Linked DNA regions of Homo sapiens: region 2 is reported to be linked to region 1. Evidence: microRNA targets listed by miRTarBase, many of them from high-throughput screens and not tested one by one. Region 1 holds a microRNA gene; the other region holds the end of a gene's coding sequence.
The links. The annotated mature microRNA hsa-miR-589-3p reads UCAGAACAAAUGCCGGUUCCCAGA and lies in region 1 at 2,260-2,283, shown strand. An mRNA with a match to its seed (bases 2 to 7 or 8) in the 3' UTR can be bound and repressed. Matches are read on the target gene's strand: a 7mer-m8 pairs with bases 2 to 8, a 7mer-A1 pairs with bases 2 to 7 and ends in A, and an 8mer does both.

Region 1 (5,177 bases):
AGAGTGAGACTCGGTCTCAAAAAAAAAAAAAAAAAAGTAAAAAGAAAAAAGAAAAAAAATTACCCAAAAGGTAGTGAAGGCCTTGAGCCTCAGTACTACCAGGGACTGGGTGGGGGAGAAAGTGGAGGCAGGGCTTAGATGAGTGAGCTGGTGTCTCTGTGAGTCCTTAGCTGGTGGGGTGGGTTGCGGGTACATGAAGTCATGCTCCAGCCTAAGGGGCACGTGGGCACGTGTCATTGTCCCCAGAATAGTTAGCATTCACCTTGTGCCTTTGCTGAGAGCCATGCACTGAGCCCATCCTCCCTGCCATAATCTGCTGCGATTGCAGCCTTGATCATTCCCATTTCCCAGATGAGGCTGTGGGAGCTCAGGGGGAGCTGAGTCTCTCGCAAACACCGGTGCTTGACCTTGGCCCTGGAGCCATGCAGAGTAGAGATAAGGGCGCCCCTTGTAAATCTCCCCTCTCCCGCAGAAGGCATGGCAGGAAGTGGCCGGGTCTGCTCGGGAGCAGCCGAGCTGGAGGCTCACACCCTGGAGTCCCCCGGCCATGCAGCCAGCTTGGCGCCACCCTCCCTCTCGACCTCCTCCCACTGCAGACCTGTTAGTGTTGGGTTGAGAAGCGCAGGATCAAACCCAGGACTTTCAAATGGCAGAGCAGATTGCTAGAAGCCTCTGTATTTCCTGTCTGGTGGAGTCACCAGGCCCTGGATCGGCCGCTTTGATTCTCAGCTCGAGCCACTGCGAGGCTCCGTGCGTGGGGAGCGGGGTGGTTATTCATGCTCTGACCCAGGCATCCTGGAGAACCAGGACGGGCGACTGCTTTGAGAACCAGACGGGCGACTTTTCAGAATCTCCCTGCTTTAGAAATTTGACGCAAAATGCATGTAAAATTTGGGCTTTCCCACTTTTTTTTTTTAAAAATGGTCTCATTCTGTCTCCCAGACCGGAGTGCAGTGGCATGATCACAGCTCACTGCAGCCTCGACCTTCTCTGGCTCAGGTGATCCTCCCACCTCAGCCTCCCGAGTAGCTGGGACTATAGGCACATGCGACCATGCCCGGCTAGTTTTTTTTTTTTTTTTTTTTTGAGACAGAGTCTCACTCTGTCACCCAGGCTTGAGTACAATGGCATGATCTCAGCTCACTGCAACCTCTGCCTCCTGGATTCAAGCGATTCTCCTGTCTCAGCCTCCAGAGTAGCTGGGATTACAGGTGCCCACCACCATACTCGGCTAATTTTTTTTTTGTATTTTTAGTAGAGACGGGGTTTCACCATGTTGGCCAGGCTGGTCTCGAACTCCTGACCTCAGGTGATCCGCCCACCTCGGCCTCCCAAAGTGGTGGGATTACAGGCGTAAGCCACTGTGCCCGGCCGCCTGGCTAGTTTTTTGTATTTTTTGTAGAGACGGGGTCTTGCTGTGTTGCCCGGGCTGGTCTTGAACTCCTGGGCTCAAGTGATCCTCTTGCCTGGGCCGCCCAAAGGGCTGGGATCACAGGTGTGAGCCACTGTGCCCGGTCCGGAGAGTCTGTTAAGTGTGGCCTCCTAGTTGATGGGCCTAAGCCAAGCCCTGAGTCCAGGCTGAGGTCTGGCCTGGGAGAGTTGCTTTGGCGTCCTCAGCTCATAGGTGGCCTTTAGCCACCTATGGATCCAGGTGAGCCCACGGATTGGGCTGGGGCACACGTGACAAGGATTGGCCAGGAAGAGGAAGAAGAATGTGGAAGGGAGACCGAGCAGAGGCTGTCAGCAAGGGAGGCACTGGCCGGAGGGAGGGGGTGTTCCGGAAGCAAGAGGCAGAGGTGACGGCAGCCACCGCGGGTGGAGGGGACCTTTGGGCTCATGTGACCTCTGCCAGGTGCTTTTCATGGGTGTACAGGTCTTGACCCCTTTGATATTCTCAACAACCTCTGAGTGTCGACACAGTTGTACCCACTTAATGGATGAAGAAAGTAAGGCCCAGAGAGTGCATGAACTTGCCTAGGTCACATGGCTGCTTGTCTCCGGCCTCCCGAGGTCAGCGTGATTTCATGGTCCCCGATGGCCTCCGGAGTCTGGGACGGAATCCCCGTGGCCAAGGGCCTTCCTCAGGAGCAGGGCCATGGAGAAGGCGCGGAGAGGCCTGCGGGTTCTGTGGGTTTTGTGGGTTTTGTGGGCCAGCCTGAGAGACCGACCCTGCTCATAATGCCATCTCTGTGGACAAACTCCAGCCTGTGCCCAGCAGCCCCTGAGAACCACGTCTGCTCTGAGCTGGGTACTGCCTGTTCAGAACAAATGCCGGTTCCCAGACGCTGCCAGCTGGCCCCGTTCCTCTGGATTCCTGCCTTCTGCGGCAAGGGAGCCCGGACGCTGCAGTGGAAGGAGCAGGTGGCACTCGCTTGCCCGTGGGCAGGAGCTGTGCAGAGGAAACGGCGCTGGGATCCCTGGAGGCTGGCACGATGCTCCGAGGCCGCATCCTGGGGCGGCCGGAGTCTCTTTGGTGGCAGAGCTTGGAATCCCACGCCAGCCACCTGCTGCCACTGGCAGCCCCCACACCGTGACCCCCAGCTTTGTGCTTGCTGGGGCTCCTGGCAGGGAGGGGGTGGTGCAGGAAGGAGTCGCTCTGGCTGGGACTTGGACACACCTCAGTAGTAAGGGGATTACAAATTGGGCAGAAAAGACACCTTCTTTCCCTAGACCAGCTAAGCCCTGCTTGCGGTGGAGGGCGGGGGAGCGTGTCACCCTGAGTCACCCGGGCTGCTGTGAGCGTGACCAGGGCAGCGTCTGGGCAGAAGCGGGCCATCCTTTTCAGAGCCAGGCCCCGGAGCCACCCTAGGGACACCTCGGAGGCCTGGGTGCTGCTCTCACGGCCCGTGCAGTGGGTGGCCAGATGGGAGCCCCCGCACTGTGAGCTCAGCACCTTTCATGCCCACAGAGTCACCAGGAGACCCAGGTGCCCCCTCAGGGAGCAGAATGGGGAGGCTGGATCCTCACTCAAAGGTGAGGCCCGGCGCAGTGGGAGCCTTTTCCTCGTCCCCATCCTCCCTGCAGACGCTGCCGGTCACTCGAGTCAGGTCAGCTCTGCCACCGTCCTGGGTGCCGTGCCCCAGGCGGCGTGCTGTGGGAGCCTAGGAAGCTTTAGACGTGCCAGGCCCGCTGCCTGACCAGTCACTCCCGTGGGCCTGCCACATCCTGAACACCTGTGACAGGTGACTTCCTCCGGGGCGGAAGAATGTGGATGTGGTTATCTCGTGGAAAAAAGGTTTTTTTTCCACGCTCTGCAGACTTGGTTTTTAACCCCAGAGGCTCGGGGCGATCTGGGGCGGGTAGCACGGAGCCGCATCGCCACCTAGTGACCACACGACGGCACCGTCCTTGCCCAACGCCCCGTTTCCATCTCCTGCTGTCTGGAGCCTCCTGCTTTTGCTTTGGAGAGAAATCCAGAGGTGACTTTGCAGCTCAGCAGGTGCGGCGCCTGCACCGTCTTTTTTACCCCTTCCCGTTTCCCACCTTCCGGTCTGCAAAGGGTTGTTTACTTTAGGATTTTTTTAGGGAGAGGTGGTATTTAAAATATACGTAATGAAAACATTTTATTACTATCTTTAAATAAAAACAATCTGAATAGCTTAACAAAACAAATATAGAAAAATAAAGACAATTTGGATGTTTTATTTTATTATTTATTTAATTTTATTTATTTATTTTTTTGTGTGAGACAGAGTCTCGCTCTGTCACCTAGGCTGGAGTGCAGTGGTGTGATCTCAGCTCACTGCATCCTCTGCCTCCAAGCAATTCTCCTGCCTTCGCCTCCCCAGTAGCTGGGATAATGGGCATGCCCCGCCACGCCCAGCTAATTTTTTTTTTTTTTTTTGAGATGGAGTTTCACTCTTGTTGCCCAGGCTGGAGTGCAATGGTGCCATCTTGGCTCACCGCAACCTCTGCCTCCCAGGTAGAAACGATTTTCCTGCCTCAGCCTCCCGAGTAGCTGGGATTACAGGTGTGTGCCACCACGACCAGCTAATTTTGTATTTTTAGTAGAGATGGGGTTTTTCCATGTTGGTCAGGCTGGTCTCAAACTCCCGATTTCAGGTGATCTGCCCTCTTCGGCCTCCCAAAGTGCTGGGATTACAGGCATGAGCCACCGTGCCCGGCCTGCCTGGCTAATTTTTGTATTTTTAGTAGTGACAGGGTTTTGCCATGTTGGCCAGTGTCGAACTCCTGACCTCAGGTGATCCGCCTGCCTCAGCCTCCCAAGGTGCTGGGATTATAGACGTGAGCCACCGCACCTGGCTGAGAATTTCTGCTTAAATCAATTAAAAGAAAATTAACTACCAGGCATGGTGGCTCACGCCTATAATCCTAGCACTTTGGGAGGCTGAGGCAGGAGGATTGCTTGAGCTCAGGAGTTGGAGACCAGCCTGGGCAACATAGTGAGACCCCTGTCTCCACACACACACACGCACGCACGCACGCACGCACACACACACAAAAGTAAATAACCAGTCTCTCATGAGCCACACTTCCTTTATTCTTTTAAAAAAAAAATTTTGGCCAGGTGCAGTGGCCCACGCCTGTAATCCCAGCACTTTGGGAGGCTGAGGCGGGTGGAGCAAGTGGTCAGGAGATTGAGACCATCCTGGCTAACACGGTGAAACCCCATCTCTACTAAAAATACAAAAAATTAGCTGGGTGCGGTGGCAGGCGCCTGTAGTCCCAGCTACTCGGGAGGCTGAGGCAGGAGAATGGCGTGAACCCGGGAGCTTGCAATGAGCTGAGATCACGCCACTGCACTCCAGCCTGGGCAACAGATCGAGACTGTCTTGCTCTGTCATCCAGCTTGGAGTGCAGTGGCACGATCCTAGCTCACTGCAGCCTCGAAGTCCTGGGCTCAAGCGATCCTCCCACCTCAGCTTCCCGAGTAGCTGGGAGTACAGGTGCGTGCCACCATGGCTGGATAATTTTTGTACTTTTTGTAGAGCTGGGCTCTCACTATGTCGCCCAGGCTCTTCTCAAACTCCTGGGCTCAAGTGATCCTCCTGCCTTGGCCTCCTGAAGGGCTGGGATTATAAGTGTGAGCCACCATGCCCGCCGTGACTTGGTCTTTTTGTGTCACCTACCAGGGAAGAATCTCCATGCCTGTGGCGCCTTCTGCTGTGGCTGCCCTCAGCATCTGTGCTAGGATCCTGGGGCTGCCAGGACAATTG
Region 2 (5,000 bases), not on the chromosome of region 1:
AAGCTGAAAAGAAGCTTCAAAACATTGATCACCCTCTCACAAAGTCATCCAGTAAGAGAGATCACCGGCGTTCTGTTGATTCCAGAAATACCCTCAATGATCTCCTGAAGCATCTGAATGACCCAAATAGTAACCCCAAAGCCATCATGGGAGACATCCAGATGGCACACCAGAACTTAATGCTGGATCCCATGGGATCGATGTCTGAGGTCCCACCTAAAGTCCCTAACCGGGAGGCATCGCTATACTCCCCTCCTTCAACTCTCCCCAGAAATAGCCCAACCAAGCGAGTGGATGTCCCCACCACTCCTGGAGTCCCAATGACTTCTCTGGAAAGACAAAGAGGTTATCACAAAAATTCCTCCCAGAGGCACTCTATATCTGCTATGCCTAAAAACTTAAACTCACCAAATGGTGTTTTGTTATCCAGACAGCCTAGTATGAACCGTGGAGGATATATGCCCACCCCCACTGGGGCGAAGGTGGACTATATTCAGGGAACACCAGTGAGTGTTCATCTGCAGCCTTCCCTCTCCAGACAGAGCAGCTACACCAGTAATGGCACTCTTCCTAGGACGGGACTAAAGAGGACGCCGTCCTTAAAACCTGACGTGCCACCAAAGCCTTCCTTTGTTCCTCAAACCCCATCTGTCAGACCACTGAACAAATACACATACTAGGCCTCAAGTGTGCTATTCCCATGTGGCTTTATCCTGTCCGTGTTGTTGAGAGGATGATGTTGTAAGGGTACCTTAAAACAAGAGACTCGCTTGTATTTTAAGAGAACCAAGTGGCCAAAGAAACTCTTTCTAACTTTGGCAACATCAGAACTTGCCACATGTAGCTACTGCAGCAAGGCTTCTGTGTACTTGCCTGAAAACAAAGGAAGGTGCTGGTCATTCCATTTCTTTTGTTTGAAGCTAAAGAGATGTGTAGCTCACAGGGGCTACCTTACCAGTATAAAGAGCTGATAACAGTACTCAGAAGAATCTGTGAACAAATACTTGAAAATGGGTTCAATGTAGACTGCCATTATGTGTGGTCTTCCCATTAAATGTGAACATTTTAATATGTATGCATTCACCTTGCCTCTTGCACAAATGTCAAAAAAAAGATGGTAATATCTCAAAGAAATGAACTTGTAGATTACCAAGCAGTTTGCTAAAAATTCAATCTTTGACCCAAGCTGTAGCATTTTTTTTTCATGTGTGGCATCTTTTTCATGCCACCAACAAACTTGTTGTGTGTGTGCGTGTGTGTGTGTGTGTGTGTGTGTGTGTGTGTGTTCTGTACCCACTAGGATTTGTTTAGGTGCCCATTGCATCTTTTTGTGCTATGGAGTTGTTTACATTAAGCATGACCGAACGAGAGACAATACTATTTCCCACAGGAGTCCATTGGGTTCAGCTTTGAAAGAGGAATAGAATCGAGGCTCCTTTGACCATCAAAATGATGAACTTTACTTATGTGGTACCCAATGCCAGAATGTAAGAGTTGCAAGTGATTTTGTGCTGCTATTCATTAAAACTTGTATTCCAGTCTTGCCAGCTTAAGGAGATCAAGATATTAAGAGGTATCCTTGATTTATTTTCCAGTATTCAGTAGTAAAATTTTCCTGTCCACTGTGAATCAAAGCCTGAGTCACTCTATTTAACCTTGGACACACTAATAAGGTTTTATTTTGATTGTGTTCGTTTCCCCCCCCCCAATAGTAAAATTTCTCCTCCTTTAACTCCTCCTACCCCCCAAGGTAAGAAACAAAAAACAAACAAACAAACAAAAATAGAAGACAAAAGAAAGACATATGAAAGGAATTGTAATTGGCTTAACAGAAACAGTCTGTAAAAACCTAACAGTGGTGCAATCATGTTGTCTGTGTTGTGTTATGTGAGAATTTTCTCCTAAGTCATGCAGGTAATGACAATATACTGTAAATACCACATGTGAGTTTACCTGAATCTGTGCATTTTGTGCCTTATTCATGAGAATGATAGAAGTACTAAAATCTGTCAAGTGTTTTCAGTATAGCACATTATTTACTGAGTGCCAGTTGTAAATGTTTTTCAACCAGCACCTAAAAAGACTCTTTTCAAAAAATCACAGAAACAACCTAGGACAATTATTTGTTACATAATCCGACCTCATAGCAGCATTACATTCTTTGCCGTGATAAACATTCCACTCCTGCTTTCCTAAGGATGAAACAGTGATAATGTGAACTCAAATGAGGTTTCCTGGGTAATGTGACACCTGCAGAAACTATAGAGCGTCATTTATACGTAGTTTGGCAGAAACCACTTACGGCTGATGATGCGCAACCCTGCTGACTGTTTCAGTTAATATGCTGCACACCACACACTTGTTTAGTGAACCAAATCTAGAAAGTACCAAGGCAGAGGTATGCTCCTGCTGTAATCAGGCAAATGAGTTCAACTGGATTTCTTTTGACAATACTGTTGGTACCTATTACTTGGGGGAGGACATGTTGCAGAAGACCAGATCATTTTTATACAGAATGTGAAATACTGATACAGTTATTCTTTTTTTTAAAGAACATTGTTTTATAAAGAACGTGATTTCCAGTGATCTCTGGAAGCGCTAAAGCTAAAATTTCTGTTCTTGAAACACTTCAGCTTTGCAACTAAAATATTACAGATTAATAATAAATTAAACCAACCAATGATAAACACTACTCAGTCCACCAACAACAAACGTGTTTGAATTCACCTTACCAATATTAATCCCAGCGTGTGTAAAACAGAACAGTAACTCTATGTGACCCCAGATAACATTTTGTAACATTGTGCTTCCTTGTAGTTTGTAATGTGAGTTCAATCAGTATTTATGTTGAAATTTCTAACATTAAATCTAGTCTCTATCCTGTTAATTTAATTTTTAAATGCTTTATCCATTTGTGCAAAGGTAAACGCAGATTGTATCTTTTTTAATGGTACGGCATAAAAAGTAACCCTCAAGTGAAGTGTCTCTATACTGTTTTATAGAGTACTTTAACATGAATAGATACCTTGTAAACTTGTATTGTGGATGTGTAAATAATATGTACTTTGGGTTTTTAACACCGCATGTAAAGTCAAAATAAAATATACAAATCATTATATCCTGCCTCTTGATATTGAAGAGGTTTATAACATGTTATATTTTTAAAATATTTTTAAGTCAATCAACACCAGTAATAGTTGCTTTTAAAATCTGCCAAAATATTCTTATCTGGAACAGTTGCTCTCCAGTCATGATTACACTACCATTCTCTCCTTGGAAGGCTGACACTGGAGGTCAGAGCCCCTGAAAAAAATGAGAAACTGTTCAGAAAACCAGTTGAACTGTACTACGTCAACAGTCATATGCTTTAGGCAAACAGTAGTGGTTCACATTGTCCATAGATCTATCTAGTTCAACAGACATTTTTAAAATTCATGATTTGTTTTCCTGCGTGAAATTTTTCACGTAATAGTTCAAAATTATAACTGGCAAACAGGGTTCCCGTGAACATTTCTTGCTATTTGGTATAAGGAGTTTCTCAGTTCCCTTGTTTTAAACAAATAGAATAAATTAGGAGCTCTCTTCCCTAAATATTGAAATGAGAGGTAACAATATGATTCCATGGCTTGCTCTTAGCACGTAATGAGTTGGTGGCTGCTGTCATTGCTTCTCGTGGATGTTGACAGTGGCAGGCCACTTCTGAGAGAGACAACAGGGGTAGGCTGTAGCAATCCCTGCCCTCTTGTTTCTAGCTGCTACTCCTGGCCAAAGCCCATCTGCAGCTCCCATGTGGTCATGTTTTCTCAAGGAGCTTCAGCAGCATCTTTGCTGAACAGCAGAATGGCCATATTCCTGTCTCGAGTCTTATTCTCCTTGATAGTGTCATCTAATTAGGGGTGCTGCATTTCAGTGTCAATTTAGTGGTATCAGAAGTCCTTGTTTATTCCTATCATAGCATGCAATACTCCAGAGACATGAGGAAAAATTTGAAGGAATCTTTTTGTGAGAGAAGAAGACCAGGGGATGGCCTATTTGCCCCATTTCACAGCTCCTGGCACCACAGGTGGTGCCACCAGCCACAGAACCTGACCTTGGCCTTCCAAACTACCCTATCATTGGAAGGAAGTCTGCGTAAGTGCACACCATTATAGTGCTGGAGAAGAGGGTGGAAGGTGTCTCCCATCTTACTGACTTGCAGAAGTCAATTTGTAACTCAGATTTCGAACAAATGGATGAAAGAAGACACAAGGGAAATGCATCTCCAAGCTTGTCTCACTCTGTCGCCCAGGCTGGAGTGCAGTGGCACGATCTCGGCTCCCTGCAACCTCTGTATCCCGGGTTCAAGCAATTCTCCTGCCTCAGCCTCCTGAGTAGCGGGGATTACAGGCACAGGCACTCACCACCATGCCCAGCTAATTTTTGTATTTTTAGTAGAGAAGGGGTTTCACCATGTTGGCCAGGTTGGTCTCGAACTCCTAACCTCAGGTGGTCCACCTACCTCAGCCTTCCAAAGTGCTGGGATTACAGGCATAAGCCACCACACGCAGCCTCTTCCTAGGCTTCTTTAGCATTGCATTATCATTCATTTGCATTGCCTGTTTCCATTAAATTGGTGTTTATTATACCTACTGCCTGTTTACTAGTTTTTCTGAGTTCAACGATTTTTTTCTCTTCTAAAAAATGCACCTTTCTTTTCTCCCTTATAGAAGTTCTTAGCCTTATTCCATCATAGACATTTTTGATAATTTAATGAATGCTATGGACTGAAAGGCGCATTTCCCTTTCCTCTCCAGGACATTTACAGTCCCCTAAAATCACATCTATGAATCCTCAAGATAAATGCTCAGATCCCATTTGAGAGAAGTAGGGTAAGGGAACTTGGGACTTTTTTCAAAGGGAGCCCATAAAACCAGAGAGTAATGGGACAAATACAATAACCAGGACAAGGCACTGTGCTCTGGTTCCAGAAATGCCATCGACTAAGCACTTGGTTACCCTGG

Region 2: the mRNA of SEMA6D is a reported target of hsa-miR-589-3p. Seed matches in the 3' UTR shown: 7mer-m8 at 1,284-1,290.

What each region holds. Positions count from the first base shown.
Region 1 is chr7:5,492,940-5,498,116 of GRCh38, reverse strand. It overlaps MIR589 (microRNA 589), which reads left to right and starts at 2,200; the gene lies at 2,200-2,298. The region is part of intron 3 of FBXL18 (F-box and leucine rich repeat protein 18); the gene reads left to right. RefSeq lists enhancers at 2,857-2,906, 2,977-3,056.
Region 2 is chr15:47,771,106-47,776,105 of GRCh38, forward strand. It overlaps SEMA6D (semaphorin 6D), which reads left to right. Exons shown (of 19, transcript NM_001358351.3): 19 at 1-3,123. The coding sequence ends at 680. Among named protein-coding and RNA genes, the nearest start is that of SEMA6D, 56 kb to the left of the region's middle.